4 linked regions of the Homo sapiens genome follow. The protein of the gene in region 2 interacts with the protein of the main gene of each other region in a pairwise test. Each region holds a gene or a part of one and is shown on either strand. Other genes may lie near its edges.

Evidence for each region.
Region 1: the proteins of MAPK9 (region 2) and MED12L interact in binary tests that used the Homo sapiens proteins (3 or more experiments, as listed by UniProt).
Region 3: the proteins of MAPK9 (region 2) and C1orf94 interact in binary tests that used the Homo sapiens proteins (3 or more experiments, as listed by UniProt).
Region 4: the proteins of MAPK9 (region 2) and PAX5 interact in binary tests that used the Homo sapiens proteins (3 or more experiments, as listed by UniProt).

The regions. Positions count from the first base shown.
Region 1 is NC_000003.12:151,087,992-151,092,553, reverse strand, and holds part of MED12L (mediator of RNA polymerase II transcription subunit 12-like protein), read right to left. Parts: intron 1-4,562. UniProt on the Homo sapiens protein: May be a component of the Mediator complex, a coactivator involved in the regulated transcription of nearly all RNA polymerase II-dependent genes.
Region 2 is NC_000005.10:180,243,285-180,247,846, reverse strand, and holds part of MAPK9 (mitogen-activated protein kinase 9), read left to right. Parts: intron 1-118; coding exon of another isoform or gene 119-147; exon of another isoform or gene 148-184; intron 185-336; coding exon 337-408; coding exon of another isoform or gene 409-449; exon of another isoform or gene 450-1,827; intron 1,828-4,562. UniProt on the Homo sapiens protein: Serine/threonine-protein kinase involved in various processes such as cell proliferation, differentiation, migration, transformation and programmed cell death.
Region 3 is NC_000001.11:34,174,873-34,180,096, reverse strand, and holds the start of C1orf94 (uncharacterized protein C1orf94), read right to left. Parts: upstream 3,191-5,224; 5' UTR 2,308-3,190; coding exon 1,988-2,307; intron 1-1,987.
Region 4 is NC_000009.12:36,832,379-36,835,940, forward strand, and holds the end of PAX5 (paired box protein Pax-5), read right to left. Parts: 3' UTR 891-3,562; downstream 1-890. UniProt on the Homo sapiens protein: Transcription factor that plays an essential role in commitment of lymphoid progenitors to the B-lymphocyte lineage. Fulfills a dual role by repressing B-lineage inappropriate genes and simultaneously activating B-lineage-specific genes.

The DNA.
Region 1 (4,562 bases), on a different chromosome or scaffold from region 2:
AAAATAAACCAAGCATTGAGATAGTTAAATGTTATAAATACTCACAATTGCTCATTAATAGTTCTTTCTGCATTTATTAATTTCTTCATGAAGTATTTACTGAGCACCTAGTCTACTCCCAGGCACTAGGCCGTTCACAGATGTGAACACCACAGACAAGCCTCTGCTCTCATGCAGCTTACATTCCAGCTGGAAGGCAGGCCATGGAGAGAATAGCATCCTAATAATTGCATTTCAGTGACAAGCGCTACAAAACATATTAACTCAGGGAAATGAACTGGCAAGGATGAGGGAAGACAGGCTGCAAGGAAGGCCTCCCTGTGGGGGAGTTTCCGAGCTAAGAACCAAATGACAGGAAACAAAACTGCTGCAGGGAGCAAGGGACAGGAACCTATACACAAAGAAGCTAGGCCTGTTGGAAGAAGAGAGAGGCAGCCTGTGGTCCCACCACACAGCAAGTTGGAAGGGGTGACTCAAAGCCCAGATCTTGAAAGGCAGGATCTTGTGGCTGTTATGGTTAAGTACAACAGGAGACCCCCAGCATCCTTTAATAAGGGATCAGCTAATAGTGGCTGACCTGTGTTGAGTGCTGCCTGTGTGACAGGCACGATTCTACACACTTTGCATACATTAGCTCATTTTCTCTTCCCAGCAACTCTATGAAGTTGGAAGAAATACAAACCTCATTCCATGGTTGAGGAAGCTGAGTCAAACAGGCAGTAAACAGAGTAGCCAGAACTCAAAGCCAGGCTGTTTGGCTGCAGGCAATGACTGCAGAGGTGAACAAGGGCCAGACTGGTAGGGCCTTGAAGGCCAAGGTAAAGGGTTTGCATTTTATTTCAAGTGTAATGGAAAAAGCCACTGGAGGGGGACTGAGACTTCCTGGTCCATTCCCTTAGATCTGAACTAAGAGAGGGCACAAATTCTGGGACAAGAACACCAAATCTTGGCTGGGTTGGCTGTTAAACCAAACTACTGCAACTTCAGCCATACATAGAAGTCTAATCCAGCCCTGCTCGTATCAAGCAGAATGCTCTAGCCCCTGCAGAACTGGATGTCTTCCCTTTAGGTGAGGGTTCTCGAAGTGGGGCCCTAGACCAGCACCATCAGATTACCTGGGATCTTGTCACCAGTGCAATTTCTGAGGCCTGACCTCAGACCTACTGAATCTTAGAGACCCAGCAATCTGTTTCAACCAGCCTTCAGGGTAATCTGAATGTCCTCTGAAGTTGAAGAACCACCACTCTGGGATATCCGCATGCAGACACCACCATCACCACCAGCTCTCCTAAGTCATGCTGTGTATATCTTCGGGCAGCCCCTGCACTGCACACCAGGCCATTATTCCCGTAGGTCCCTGCTGGTGGGGCTCTACAGCTCCTGATTCCCGGAAATCTCATTACTGCCCCAACCCATTTTTCTAACAAATTTGATTTTCTGCACATATTTACTCTTCAAATGTTTCGGCCTCTTTTTCTGTTGTTTTTTGTTGTTGTTGTTTTGTTTTGTTTTTGAGATGCAGTCTTGCTCTGTCCCCCAGGCTGGAGTGCAATGGCACAATCTCGGCTCACTGCAACCTCCGCCTCCTGGGTTCAAGAGATTCTCCTGCCTCAGCCTCCCAAGTAGCTGGGATTACAGGCGCCTACCACCATGCCCAGCTAATTTTTGTATTTTTTAGTAGAGACGGGGTTTCACCATGTTGTTAAGGCTGGTCTCGAACTCCTGACCTCAGGTGATCCACCCGCCTCGGCCTCCCAAAGTGATGGGATTACAGGCATGAGCCACCACGCCTGGCCCTGTTTCAGTCTCTTTTGTCCCAGAGTAAACCTCCTCTTCCTTCCTACTTCTGGAGCTTAATTTTACTTTCAGGCTTAACCTAGGCTCCAAAGCAGATAGATGCAAAGGATACTTTCAGCTTTAACCTTGACTTTCCCCAACAGCCCTCAGTCACCGGATTTCCCTTTTTAATTTATTCATCCCAAGTTTATTCATGTTCCAATAAATATTTGTGCCCTCAGCCTTCTAGGAACTAATTGTGCAGGTGCCAGGTACTTCTGCCATACCAAAACAGACCTCATCCATGCCCTCATGAAACTGACCTATTAGGGGGAGATGGCAAGATGCAAATAAGTATATAATTGTAAATGATATATCAGAAAAGCCTGAGACTTGAATGATGAAGGGGCAGGCATGACAGTAGTTCATGACAGCAAACATATAGGGGCTGAATCTATGACAGATTCTGTTCTAAGTGCTTTTTACATATACTATCTAGGTAATCTTCCAACAGCCCTATGAGTTAAGTAGTATTATCACTCTCACTCTATATGGAAGGAAAATGAAGTATAGGGAGAATAAGGGGCACATAAACAGGACAGCCAGGGTCCCAACCCAAGCAGACTGGCACCAGAGCCTACCTTTCTAACCACAGGCTAAGGTGAGAAGAGCTGAGTGGAATGCTAAGTGGGAGGGGGTGGCTAGACAGGTGTCCAGGCAGAAAGACCAGAACAGAATATGCAGGAGCCCTGGGGAAGAGAAGTCACCCTGAAGCCAGAAGGGAGACCAAGCATACTGGTGAAACTGGAGAGCATCTGGTGGATTGGAAATATATTTTGGAACTGAACAGGATGTGCGCATGGATGTAGAGACGCTGATGGATGAATGGGGTATAAGCAAGGAGGAGGTCTCAAGGATGACTGCCAGTTTTCTGATTCCCTGCTTTAAAGGCTTGAGCACAGTCTGTTTGTAGGAAGCAAAGTATTATAACACAATATATAATGAAGTCCTACAGGATGCTGATGCACAGCAAGCTCTCAAAAAAATATAACCAATCCATCAGGCAGGTTAAAGCTTCCATATTCTCCCCCCCGCCCCACCCCCATACTTCTCCACATGGGTCTTCGTTCATGGGTTCCACCCTACCTTCTGGGAGCCCTTTTCTGAAATATATTACCACTGGTTAACAACAACAATAAAAATTACATTTATGGTGACAAGAATAACTTCTACCAGGAGGAGGGCTTTTCTCACACAAATGTTGGTTTGAAATTTTTTCTGAAGTGCACAAACTAATTTACAAATGAGAGGCTATGCAACTTGCCCAAGGCCACACAATTGCAAAAAAAAAAAAAAAGCTAAATCCAGGTTGGCCCAACTTGGAAGCCCACACTTCCTCCATTAAATCAGCATTTTCCACCACAGCTATCTCTAATGGAACACAACTGTTGTTTTCGATACACAGATGAACTTTTAAAGTGTTAATAGTAATGGTCTCATTTTATTATGTATAATCATATACGTGTGTGCATGTAATATCAAATAGATTAAAAATAGTATGTAAACATGATTTGATATAAATTTTATATATACATATATTTCAATAAATCCATGACTCCACGTGTAGTACTGCCCAGGAAACACAAAGTTTCTTAAAAAATTAGTTTAAAGAAAACTTCAGAATAAAAGTACAGGTGGTACAGGGGTAGGGTAGAAATCTTGAGGGAGGTAGGACATAAATAACTAAAGCTTAGGAAACTCTACTCACCAACCACCCAAGAACAGCCAAGCACCTGTTCCATATTGTACCCAAATTTGGCTACAGCCACACATAACTCTGTCTGCTTGGGAGAGTTAAAACATTGGCTGCCTTGGGGGAAAGGGGATAACATCAGAAGATAATTTAGCATAAATCATCCTCAAAGCAGTATTAGTTTTGACATAAATACTGGTTTGGTGGTACAACTCCTCTGCTTATTCACCTATACACCTTGGTTAAACGAGTCAAGCTTTCCCAGGCCTGTTTCACTTAGTCAAAAGGAAGTTATAGAAAGTAGTCCCTAAGGTCGCTTCCAGTTTTAGAACTCCATAAAATGTTGTGAGACCCTGAAATCCAAAATTACTCTTTCCAGAATCAGAGGCCCCAGTCGTGAAATGAGCATTGGCCTGAAGAACAAATGCTAAATAAGCCCACACAGCACCCCAAGCCATCATGCCATCAATTATGCTGCCCTCTGGAAAGACAGAGTAAGACATTAATTACAAGATGATAAAGTTCAACCAACAAAATATCCCTGTCCCTATCAAAACTTTAAGAATTTCCTCCCAATAATTTTTAAGCTATTAACTGTACACTTGATCCTCAGCTTCTCTATTATTTCCAGTCCTTAACCATTAACTTCATTCTAAGTTGGGGTAGCAGGGTGGGGTAACGGGTAGGAAAAAAAATCTGGGAAATCTTCTCAAACCTCTACCATCCTGTAAAGCTGGTGCTGGAAACCACCTGTAAAACCTTCCCAGCTTTCATCTGCGTGACTCCACTGATGCTAGAGCATATTTAGTGTGCTAAACCTCTAAAAGGAGTTGCTGTTCCTTACTTCTCAGACACTTTATAAGCAAGACAGTTTAGCCAGAACAAGCACTTACTCTCCTAATGAAAGATACACTTATCAAAAGGAAAGTCTTAAGGACCCCTCCTTGCCTGGTTTACAAGGCCCTTTCTGTGCTATCAGTGGGCCCACAAACTTTTAATGGAGGGTTTTTAGATTCTCAGAAAGGTAAGTTTT
Region 2 (4,562 bases):
CACAGGGGACCCGGTACTTGGCCATGGAGGCTGGGGTGGGCGTGTGGCCCTGAAAAGCTTTGTGTTCACAGGCACTTCTTGTTTCTGGTTTTTTGTTTGTTTGTTTGTTTGTTTTAAGCTATAAAGTATTGGACTCTTTGGCACTAAAACCCCAGATTGCTACAAACCGAAGGCTAAAATAGAGGTCAGCAATCATTCATATTGTGTAAAATGTCACCCTTAGCTAGCAATTTATTTTTCCATATTTGTGTGTTTAGTGCACTGTTAGAATTCCTTTTCCTCACTTTTGTTTTGTTCATGGCACTTCATAATTTTATCATTTCATTTTATTTTCAGTTGATATCTGGTCAGTGGGTTGCATCATGGGAGAGCTGGTGAAAGGTTGTGTGATATTCCAAGGCACTGACCGTATCCTTCCCCGCGACCTTGGCCCCGCCATGCTTTCTTAATGCCTCAGGCAGCATGACCACCTGCTTACACGAGCGCTCACGAGGACAAAGTCGTAAAATCCACTCCAGACTGTGTTCTAAGGGGGGCTTTACTGTATTTGTTAATTAGTGTCACAAGCCAAGTGGTTCAATTTCATTCTTTATTTTTAACTTGACTACCTGTGATGACTTTGAGACTTAGAGTTCAGTTAAACCGATTATATTAGCTCTTAATTTTGCCAAAAATAGCTGGACACATAGAAGAAATTATTTACTCTTTGATAAGTATATTCTGATATTTAAATGAAAATACTGTATTATTTAGTTTATTCCGTTAATTTAACTAGGAAAGATGCTATCTAAATTTAATAGGCTAGTGTGCTTGTGTGCTTTAATTAAGTACTATTTTGTTAGTTACTGGTATGCATTGAAATATTTTCCCCCAAAGTAAGAACTGAAGCACATTACAAAGGACCTAAGTGAAAGAGATTAAAATGAAAATTTTGTGAGGAACAATATGTTAAACTTTCTTGTTTGTTACTGTGCTGACATTTTGTAGAATTTTTTTTAAAAATCTGTCTAGTGGGTTATTTTGTGACACACTGGGGAAGTCAAAATAAATGTAAAATGAAAGAGATAAACTCATACTGTAGTCAGCAAGTCATGTTAGAGATACAGCAGAAAGGAGAATAACTACTCTAATTGTTACAATAGCCTTCTTTCCTCATTTGCCATTCTTCCATCCTCAGTATTTTTTACCCTAACATGGTTCTTCACATCTTCCCTTTTTCATTTGTGTTTTAACCACTTAGTTTTTCATTAGTCTTTGACTTTGTTTTCGTTATGAAAGTTTAAATTGGTCTCCATCCTTGGGCAGATTGATGGTTGCTTTTAAGGAAATCAAGCTCCATAGTCAGTGTTTTGTATGTATCTTAGGAAAATAATTTCAGATTTTAATAATTTTATCAAAGTGGTCTCCTTATAAATTCTTCACAGTGCAAACTTAAAGTGAAAATATTTTTATTTCTCTCATTTTATTTACCTTTCTTTACATTTTCTATATCATAGATTATATAATATGTCAAGTTATTTTATTTGTTCTACTAAATTTTCTAGCAGTTTCCATAGCCTCATCTCAGATTCACTTGTTGCAACCTATAAATAAGGACGTCTTTATTTTGCAAGTAAACTTAATTAAAAAGGGAAAAGTTGAAAAATTAAAAGACTAATAATTTAGAAATATCTACTTAATGTTCAGTTTGTCTCAATTCTTACTCATTTTGTGCCATTCCTTGTTTTATTACAAAATGTTTTCTTCAAAAAGTACAAAAATGAAAAATGTGAGTACTTTTTGGTGCATTTTAGTAAGTAAAATTAAAATTCCTGCTATACATATGAACATTAATGTCAGTAATTAATAGTGTTATATATAAGGTTACCTAATGTTATTCCCAAAAGCCACACAGAGTTTAACATCATTTTCTAAAGAAAATTTTGCCAACTCTTTCAAATATTAGATTGAAATTTGGGAGATAGAAAAAAGTTGCAGAAATCAGACTGAGGGTCTCAGAGATTTGCTTTAATTTGCGACCCAGGGTAGAAAAGGAACTCCTGTCCCTGCGGTGGTCTATGAGAAAGAGAAAGCTTTAGCCCGGCCACCTCGGGCCCCAGCTCAGACTCCTCCCCTTGGCAGCCATGCATCCTTGAGAAATTTAGGGCCTCTCTGAGCCTTGGTTTCCCCTTCTGTAAAATAGACCTGTGGTCTGCCTGCAGCTTCACGAGAGTTAGACAACAGGGTCCACTGGGCTTGTCGGAATTATTGTTCCCCTTCCCCCGTCCCTCTCATCTGTCCCCCATCCCTCCCACCTGTAGGATGCTGGGGTGGAGTCCTCTCGGGGAATCTGTGGGTCTCCTCTCACAACTGGTTTAATTTCTAGTCCTTTATCATTAACCCAGCAGATATTTCTCTCACCTGCCCATTTCTGGGTGCCTAGTCTGACTGAGATGCAAAGAGGCTCCTCCCAGCTGCTGAATTGAGGGTGGATCGTCAAGGGCAGGGCAGAGCAGGAGAACAGAGCAGAGGCTGCCATCATCCAGAGGAGAGGTGGAGGCCCCCAGCAGGCGGGTAGGGGTGTGGCCGGGGAGATGGGCTTGTACTCTGCTTTGAAGCTGGACCCTTCAAGGAGCCTTGCTAGGGTTTGGAGATGTCTGTTAGACAGTGGAATTTAGGGGCAAGGTCTGGGATAGAGAGATCAAAGTGGGTGTCATCCGTCTGTCGGTAGCCTTGAAGCCTAGGACTGGTAGCGAGCACTTGCAGGGGAGGAAGAGACCAGGACCCGGGACTTAGCCCCCTTGAGGTGGAGGGACAAAGGGAATAGGGAAGGAAATGGAGAAGGCACTCACGTGACCCCTCCTCCTAGAGTGTGGTGACTGAGGGAGGCTCATTCACATGAGGAGATGAGGACGGGGGATTGGCCCCTGGGCCTTGTGATGGCTGCTGGCAGCCATGATGGGCACAGCATTTATGGAGTGGAGGGAAGAAAGCCTGATGGGAGTATGTTTGAGAGAAAATGAGAGGCTGGGAATTAGAGACACAAGTGTAGACAGCTCTTTTTTCTTTCCTTTTTTTTTTTTTTTTTTCCTTTGAGACAGAGTCTCACTCCATTGCCCAGGCTGGAGGGCAGCGATGCGATCTCAGCTCACTGCAACCTCTACCTCCTGGGTTCAAGCGATTCTTCTGCCTCAGCCTCCCGAGTAGCTGGGATTACAGGCGCCCGCCACCACGCCTGGCTAATTTTTGTATTTTTAGTAGGGCCAGGGTTTCACCGTCTTGGCCAGGCTGGTCTTGAACACCTGACCTTGTGATCCACCTGCCTCGGCCTCCCAAAGTGCCGGGATTACAGGTGTGAGCCACTGAGCCCGACCGACAGCTCTTTATGGAAGTTTTTGCTGCAAATAGGAATAAGAAATAAAGCGATAGGTAGGGCCAAAGGAAAGCAGCTACTGTGTTAACATAGGAGAAAACACCATCATTTACCAACGTGGTGGAATGTATTGGTAGAGTGCAAAATGTCGATGATGTTGGAGAAGGAAGAGTTGAGGGAGCTTGTCCTTGAGTCAGGGGGGTTAGGGTCTAGAGCTGAGCAGGCTTAGTGTAGCCGGGAGCCCAGATGGTTGCTGTGTGGCAAATGGCACACAGATGCTGGGTGGGTGCATCCTGGGAAGTCTGTGGGAGTGAGCAGGCAGAAGAGGTATCAAAAGTATAAGGTGGGCTGGGCGCAGTGGCTCACACCTATAATCCCAGCACTTTGGGAGGCCGAGGCAGGCAGATCACTTGAGGCCAGGAATTCCAGACCAGCCTGGCCAACATGGCGAAACCCCATCTCTACTAAAAATAACAAAAATTAGCCGACCGTTATGGCAGGTGCCTGTAGTCCCAGCTACTTGGGAGGCTGAGGCACGAGAATTACTTGAGCCCGGGAGGTGGAGGTTGCAGTCAGCCGAGATCATGCCACTGCACTCCAGCCTGGGCGACAGAGCGAGACTCTGTCTTTATTTATATATGTATATATGGCAGAAGGAAAAGGTGTGAGACAGTTTTCACATTTTGGCTAAATAGGTAAATAAAATGTGGGCATAATTCTGATTTGACAATATGTATGAACCAGGAGTAGGAAGGAGAATTTGCTAGTGAATTGAATGCCAGAAACACATTTCCTGAGCGGGTCTTTTGGAAGTATAACATTTTGGAAGAACTGAGTTCATGTACCAGTTCCCTAGGTTATTTCATGGTGATGTAAGTTCATTTTTCTAAGACATGCCTCAGTGAGCACTTTTTTAAGCTGCTGTTGATGCTATTTTTTTCTCACTTGCATTCTCTTGTATAGCGAGTACAGTTTCAGTGTCACTTTCCCACATGTAATCCTAATTATCCCAAGCCTAACAAGCACCCTGTGGAATAGGCAAAGCTGGTAATGTCTGCATTGAACAAATAAGGAAACAGACCCCAAGGAAGCCTGACTTTCCTGACACACTGAGTGTTTAATGCAGAGTTGAGTCTGAAACCCAGGTCACGCACTTTGAAAGGAAATAAAATGCATTACCTAGGGATCGCAGTGATGGTTGGGAAGAGTC
Region 3 (5,224 bases), on a different chromosome or scaffold from region 2:
CATGGGGCTGAAATGGAATCTGAAACCAGAGTTATCTGACTCCACCAGCACACCGCCTTTATTTTAAGAATAGCTCATTGTGTTCTATTTGGTTGACAATTAGGATGTCGTTTATTCGTCTAAGTCATTGGTTTCCTATCTCTTTTCTCAATAGCAGAAACATGTTTTTCAAATTCAGCCCTACTCAGAACTCTAGTAAGTAAAACTGATAAAAGCTAAACAGCTCTGGCTGAAATGGATTTTGGGGCCCAGCAACCAGCCCACTTGACTCCACAGTGACCCCTGAAGCACCTTGAGGTATATGGAGCATAGTGTGAACCCCAGATTGAAGCCAACAACAACAAAAACAACAACAACAACAACAAATCCCAACCTGAAGAAGTACATGTTAAGAGCAGCCTGATTTGTATAATGCATCTTTCATTTCCCTGTCTCCCATCACATTGGATCCTCATTATCAACTCTGAGGTAGACAAGGCAGCACATATCACCCTCAATTTGCAAATGAGGAAGTAAAGGCCAAATGGAGTTAAGCAGCTGGCCAAAGGTGCACCAGTTCAATTTTCAGCCAAGTGCAGACTGGAAGTCGAGTCTGTCTCCATTAACTCTGTGTGACCTGGCAAAGAGGATGCCATCTACTGGAAATTGCTACTGACCCTTGGTCCACAAAGTGGACAATCAGCTTCTTGGCCATTGAGAGCAGAGCACAGCCCCATGGGCCCTCCTGCCAAGGCCCTGTCCCAGAGCAGATGGCAATGAGCAGGGGAGAAGGGCTCAGTGCCACTGAAGGGCCTGACAGCAGGATTTTAGCTGTAGATGGGCCATTCCTGTCTGAGCCTTGTCATGCTGAGCACAGGGCAGGGAGGCAGGACTAGCCAAAGTGCCTTCCACCTTCATCTGCAGTAAGTAAATGAGCCCACAGAGGGACAGCAGGTAGTGTAGAGCTGGGTGTCATTTACACTTTGCTTTTCTTCTTAGCTCTTGCTTAGGCATCCCTGAAACCCGAGGCAGCTGATAAATGCCTGAATGGCTCCCCAACTCCAGAGCATCTCTGAACTGAGCTGTAGCATGTGTTGGAGCAGGCAACACTTAATTATCGGTTAGTCTTTAATTAGCTCTTAATTATTAACACTTAATCCATCTGTAAAATGGGGACACTAATACCTGCCTCACAGGGACTCTGGGAACATTAATTAAGTTTACAGTCCACTTTGAAGATGCAAAACGTGAAATAAGTAAGTGCTCAACGGCGGTATTAATAACCACAGCAGATTTACTTTCTTTTCCTAATTTCCCTTTTTCCTCTCTGCTCCTTCCTTTCCTTTCGAATATCCATCCTCAACAATATCTGCCCAACTTTGCCCTGATGGAGAAACACTTAGCTCTGTGTTTCCCAGACACAGGATTTCCCATCCCGGAAACGGGCTATTTACAGCCATCTTCCCGCACTTTAATTTTCTATTATGTCCTCTGAATATGTCAGTGCCTTCCCAGTAAATATTTTGATGTGTGCTCTTGCAGCAGCTTCTGTGGAGGCTGAATGGGACAGCTGCTCCCTGTATTAGGGAATTCCAGATGTGATTTAAAACCATCAGACTCATCCATGTGAATGCCTAGCCTTTAGGTGGGAGAGGGGAAGGATCTTCTAGTTGCTTCTGGGGAAAGCCACAAGCCATATAACCCTTAGCCTTAGCTAGGGTGGTTTTTCAAGGACCTCAGATTCACATGCGTTTAGGATGAGAAATGTCTGCTTAACGGGCTGGTGAAGAGGCAGCCTGGAATATAGCCCTAATCTGACTCTTCACCCACAAAACTTCAGAACTTTGGTCAGCTCTTCTATAAAGCTTGGACAAAGGACCATGGAGGGGGCAATATACAGCCTTTAGGGTTTCACCAGCCTCAACAGTGGGCCAGAACATTCCCCCAGAAGGTCAGACTTCATCTCCTCCCTCCTCCCTTGCTGCCAATGGAGTAGGGGGGTACTTACTCTTCTTGAAAGCTGAGCTCATTGCCTCTTAGAGTTCCAACCACAGGGACAGAGAGCTGCTCCATGGAGGTCCAGGGCTGTGAGGCCTCAGGCAGGCCTTGAACTCTCTTCCAGATTTCATGGCAAGTCTTGTCTAGGCTGTCTTGGGGTGTGTCCTGGTGGATCCAGATGTATCTGGGGAATGGGCCCAGGGCGCAGGGGCCCTTGGCCACCAGGGCCGAGGATGAAGGAAGCCCATTCCCGCTGGCCATCCTCCTCCTCTCTTTCTGGAAGCCCCTCTGTCCACCCAGGGCTAGAACACAACCACCACCACCCCTCATTCACCAGAAAGGGAGATGAGGATGGGGCTTGGCAGAAGTGGGTCAGTTCTGTCTGGCTTTCGCTCCAGCAAGGTGGTTAGGTTCAGAGGCCTTCTATTTGTGTGGGAGGGGTGGGTGGAGGACAGCTTTCTTTTGGGGAGGGGAGGGCTTATTTTGATTTGTTTTTATTTGCTCTTTCCTGACTTTTGCCTCCCTCCCCCTCTCCCTTAGAAGAAAATATTTAAAAGTCAACAAAAACCAGTAGCTTAGGAACAGTGGAATGCTGCGGAGCTCAGGAACCAGGCGCCTGGGCGGGCAGAATGACATCTGGGAACAGCTGGAAGGGGAGGGCTGGCTCTCCCCACAGTCCCTGGCACTGCCCCCTTGCGACGCCGCCGTGACAACTTTCGGCGCCTGGGCTCAGCCCATGCTGTCCCGCTAAGCCACGCGGAGGACTGGGTGCGGGCCTGGCACCATTGTAGGCACTCGGGGGGCGGGGCCCCGCAGGAGGCGCTCGCCTGGGCGTTCCCAGGGAGCCCCTCGCAGAGCGAGCGTCAACGGCCCGACTCCCACCCCCGGCCCAGGTCCTGCTTTTCTCTCGCCCTACCCCTCCTGCTCCCGGTCTCCCGCTGCTGCTCTGCTGCCCCCGGAAAGAAGGGATGAGGCGTGTGTGGATGGGCCCACAGCCCTTAGTCCCCGGCCCCCAGCAGACCCCTGCCCCAGCCGCGCCGCGCTGCCAGGCGGGCACCGGGAAGGGCCCAGCGGCTCAAGAGCGCGCTGACTCGGCAAGGCAGGCTGGGCCGGGCGGCTCCCACCAATTTGCCTGCCAGTAGCTCCCACACCCTCGCCGTCGTCGAGCGGGGGAATTCTTTCTGTGGGTTTCAAACGCAACGGCTCGGTGCGCGGGGCGCCCTGGGTTCGGAGCCCAAGACCCGCCGGTGGGGTGGGTGGGGGTGGGGCCCAAAGGACCCCAGAGCGCTTCGGGGGATCAGAAGTCAAAGCCAAACGCGCCGCCGCCCCACTTCGCCGCTCCACACAAATCTCAGCTCCTGCCTGGGGGTCCCCCGGCAACCTCGATTTTAATCCTAACTGCCATTTTATGGGGCGCTTGCCCTGTGCCAAGCGCTGGGCTCACATTCAATCCTATTAAAGCTCGTGAAATTAGTACCACTTTTTATTATCGTTCTACACGGGAGGAAAGCGAATCTCAAAGTCATAAGGGATTGCGTCCAAGGCCCCCTGAGAAAAGGGAAGCTGAGACTCAGACCCCAGCACTCTAGGCCTGATCTAGCCCTTGACCACTGAGACAGCTTCAGTAGGTGGGTAGGAGCAGGAGTAGGAGGTCCGAGGTGCAGGGAGAAGGGCTAAGTTAGCTGTTTGCTGATCAACAGGCCCCTACCCTCACTGAAGCGGCTTCATTCAATTGGGCACTGACACAGTACCTCTGCTGAGGGAGACTTTCTGGTTCCGAGAGTCAGGGGGTTGCTTCTCTAGCAATTCCCCTGAAAAGGAAAAGCAAGAGGGTGGAGACGGAAGAAAGAAGAATGGACACAAATAGAGGAAGATGGCAGTCTATAAATGCAGGGCTGGGTTGAATCCTGACACTCATTTCCGAGCTGTGTGACCTTAAGAACTTTCTGAACTTCTCCCATCCCCATTCATAATTCCCCCAGTACTGATGCAACCCCTCCTCTGTGCCCGATGAGTTGCTGGGCACTGAAGAAGCATAAGGGTGGGCAAAAATGGCATGGTCCCTGCTCTCCTGGAGCCTGTATACTAGCGAGGAGAGATCGATGCAAACCAGCCAAGCGAGTAAAGCAGCAATAATTACAGATGCAATGGGACTCTGATGGAAAATAACTATTAGGTTGGTGCAAAAGTAATTGCGGTTTTTGCCATCACTTGCAATGGCAAAAACCACAATTACTTTTGTACCAACCTAGTAACAAAGTGAGGCACTGGGGAGAAGAGGGGAGGCAATATTCCATGGTGGTCCAGGCCGACTTCTTTGAGGAGAAAAATTTGAGAAGGATGAGAGGAATTCCTTTTCTGTAAAATGGTGTTAATAAATTATGAGGATCATGTTTCTGGCACATAGTAGGCACTCAAAAAATATGTGTTGGATGAATTAATGGTATACTGTATGTAAAGTGCCTGGTATACAGTAGGTGCCCAATACGCAACCTTGCTCTTTACAGAGGGGCTGAGTTCCTGGAAATGTTTACTCTAAATTTTGAAATCTGAGCTTCATTCTCCTTTGATTTTCATTACAAAATTGAAGATGTGTTCCTTTGGGGAAAATTCTGAGGGCCTAGACTGAATAAAATTATAGTTAAGAATGTAGAAAACCTTTTAAAATAGTGTATTTAAAGGAAAAGTGATCATTTCTGATGAAATATTAATAGTTCTGAAAATGTCACTCAGTGTTTGTGCTGCTTGGCATTTGGTTGGCTAACACCTTAAGCTTAGAGCAGAACGCCAACGACCCTGCACTGCCCAGGCCCCAGGATTCTGGAAGTTAGCCAGCTCACTCACTCTTCCTGTTCCCTCTCCCCCTCAGCAGGAGACCAGGCAACGGGGGCTAAATCAGAAAGGACTGCAAAAAAAAAAAAAAAAAAAATCAAATACAGCAGGGATACGGAACAAAGATAGAGCATGTTTTTAGAGTGCACAGACGAGATTTCTAGAAAATTCTGCAAAAATCTTAAGTGATGTACTTAGAAATAGTATAAAGCTATGTCCATATGGTAGCCACTAGCCACATGGGGTTGTTTTAATTTTAACTTTATTTTTATATAAATTAAATGAAAAATTCAGCTCCTCATTTGCATTAGCCACATATTATGTGCTCAGTAGCCACATATGGCTAGTGGCTACCATATTGGACAGCACAGAGAACATTTCTTATCATTAAATACATATTCTCGGGAACCAGAGT
Region 4 (3,562 bases), on a different chromosome or scaffold from region 2:
AAGCCACCTCTGGGCTCCTTTGCACCTGAAATTTTCAGTTCCAAAGGCTTAAGGACAGGACAGAAGGATTGTGGACTCTTGCTCTCCGAGGTCTGACTGGATATGGCCTGTGGCTTTGGGGCCCAGAGGCGAGGTCTCCTGGTGTGAATGGCTTCTGAGTTCTGTCTGGATCCAGGCATTTTAGGTTCCAGGAGGCTCGACAGGATCAAAGTGAAAAGCACATATGGGATGGGGGCGGTGGCTCATGCCTGTAATTCCAGCACTTTGGGGGTGCTGACGCAGGAGGAAGGCTTAAGGCCAGGAGTTTGAAATCAGCCTGGGCAACATAGTGAGAGCCTGTTTCTACAAAAAGTTTTAAAAAATTAGCTGATAATATGTTAGTTTGTAAGTAGGGAAAAATTATTTTAAAAACTAGCTGGGCTTGGTGGTGAACGCCTGTAGTCCTAGCTACTTGAGAGGCTGAGGCAAGAGGGTGGCTTGAACCCAGGAATTCAAGGTTGCAGTGAGCTATGATTGTGCCACTGATAGCAGAGTCCTGGTTGGCCCTGTTCACTTCTGTGTCCCCAGTGCTGGGGACAGAATAGATGCTCAATCAGTGTGTGCTGAATGAATGAATTAGGTGGGAATTACCATTTGGGAACTGAAGAAGTAGACATTAAATCACAGCTAGGAGTCAAATCCAGAGTGGTGGCTCACCCATGACTCAACCTGCCAAGCCTGGGGACATCTCAAGGGTGGATTCTGTGCCTGCTGTCCCCTGCCCAGGGCACAGCCCAATTCTGCAACATGGGTTTGTTTTGACAAAACAATCAAATCCATGCATGACTACGGTACAGTCAAAGTTGTCAAAGGTCATCCTCAAACTAGTAAAAACAAACAAGATCAAATTCTTTTTCTGAACTTAAAAAATTACTTTTATTTTAGGAACCAATAAAATTATGGCAAATATTTACAAATAATTATCTCACATAAAGGTTACATAAAATCAATTCTTCACAAGTAACAGCCACTCATGAAAAGACACACAGATATTGAAACTACGCCAATCTTATTGCATGTTTCTCCAACTAATCTAAAATAAAGGTGTTGCAGTCAACCATTTAACTTAAAAGGAAGCCACAAATTTCAGGTTTGACAAGGAAAAAAAAGTAAAAAAAAAATTAAACCAAAACCCCACCCCTGTTTTCTCCCAAGTCCCACCCCTAGCCCTGCCCTCCTCCCCAAAAAAGAAAAATATGTCCAACATCTTTGGCAAATTGGCACTGCTGTAATTACATTCAAATATTATTACACACAAAAGCAACACACGTCACTAAGAAAAAAACCACCAATATTTCAAGTCAGTTATTTTCTACTAGAAAAAAAGAATACAAAACATACACATTTTTTAAGAAGCATTTTTTTTTTTCAATCCGTTGGAGACAGATCATCTCCCACTTTCAAAGGCAATTCAATTGTGGTTTTTGTTGTTGGTTTTTTTGTATTTTTTTGTATTTTTTTTTTTTTACAAGTAAGCGTCTATGCAGGCATCACAAACTTTGGCGGATACAGTAGATATGTATTTCTTTGATGCTGAAAGGTCAGTCCCTAAGACAAAATCAAATGTCTCAAAGAATTAAAAGCAAAATGCATGTGTCTTCCTGGCAAAGGTTTCCATTTGCAATGTAATCTGCATTTCTACAAATACTCAATGTCCAAGGCCACTAGAGGGTGAAAAACCAGGGCAGCGTCTTCCAGCAGGAGTCAGGGCAAACCCAGAGCCAAAACTCCATCCTCAGCCCAACCTTGGAGGCCCAGCAGCTGGGGCTGAGAAGTGGGGCCCAGGCAACGCCAGGCCCTCACTGCCCGCCACCCTCTGTTGTGCTGGGTGCTTGGGGCCAGGGGATGGGCCTGCCTCTTCCTGAGCCCCGGGACAGGCTGCTGCCGGGTCTGCTCACCTTCTCTGACCCAAGTCGAAGACAGCAGGCAAGAATTGGCATGGGGAGACTCAGTGCTGTTTCTGAGTTTCAAGTATGTCTGAGGTGTAGGGGAGTGAGTGAGTGTGTGTGTGTGTGTGTGTGTGTGTGTGTGTGTGTTTACATGCTCGTGCACCTTATGGAGGGGAAGGCCAGATTCTGAGGCTCTGAACTTTTTGCAGTGTTTAAAATAGACTCAGGATTTATTTATTTTCTTTTTAGCTTTATAGCAATTAATTGGCTATTGATTGGTTGGAATGTTCAACTCTCCATTTCCTCAAATACAATAAAATAGTTTCATTAAAATGTATTCATGCTTGAAAAGAAGGGCGCCATTAAATGGTTTCCTTTCTGTTCCACTCCAAGGGAAATGCGCCGTTTGTAAATCAAAAATCCATCATCCAAAATCACTTGTTCTTAATGATGCTTTTGGAGAAGATGAGGGACGTGGCCACAGGCATGGTGATTTTGGGGACAAGGGCGACCAGCGGCCATAGCCACAGGGTCACAGGGTGGGGGGCGGGGGTCAGGGCAGGTGAGGCTGGTGTGGCCTCCTCCTGCCAGGCCTCAGAGTCGGGGAGGAGATGCACGACTGCCAAGTCACCCCCACCCTGCTGTTTCACCTGCTTCCCTCCCTGGGCCCCGATCAGCCACCGGAAGCTGATGGGTGGGTGGGTTTGTGCCTCTGTCTCTCCTGCCACAGGCCAAGTACCCTACCTGAGACGACTCCTTTGAGGCTTTGCTGATTGTCCCTCAGTAGATATTAATAGGTAAGCAGCTGCATTTTCTCCTTGTGTTGCTCAGGGGTCTAAGATGTGGGAACAAGAATTTCTGGGCTTTCTGAATGGTGGCTACGTTTACCCATCTTGGAGATGAGCTAAAGGGGACCCCTTGGATTGAAACTCTAGAATGGCAGTGACATGATTCTGAGGTTCCCTTCAATCCTGGGGTGCCCAGGAACGGAGCCTCAGTGCTGAGGAATTACCAGAAAAGGAAAGACAGGCTGGTGCCTGCCTGCTCCTGGCCGGCAGCTCATTTCAGAGAAGCTGTTGCCTCATCAGGGGAGCAGGCAGGCAAGGGGCTCACAGCCTGGCCTCTGCAGAGGCCCTTGGGACCTGGCGCCACACGAGGTGCAGCCGAGCTGACAGTGGGGAAGTACACATCAGCACTGTGGTTCCCCCATGAATATGCAAGAGGGAACCCTGAGGTTTGGGGCAACAGGGGCAAGGGGCTGAAGGGGCTGCTGGGAGGTGGGGCACGCCGTGGGCTAGGAGTCGTGGCCTGACTGTCCAACTTTCCAATAATGCATTTTATTACCTTTTAAGAAATGTACTTGCCTCGGACCTCTCCGAGGCCAAAAGAACGAAAGAAATAGTTTCCCCAGGAGAGCTGGTGTGTGGCTGGGAACCATCAGAGCAGCCTCTCGATGGGTGACAAGGCCAAGACTGCAGAACTGGCCTCGTAGTGGGGCCACCGTGGAGCCGGTCTAGCTCAGAGCCCTGTGGGATCCACCCATGCCTGCCTGGGCCTGGCCTGGCCGTGGGGCAGGAGTTGGTTTCCACCCTCCCGGGAAGCTGTATCTTAGACTCCCCTCCTGGGAAGCTGTA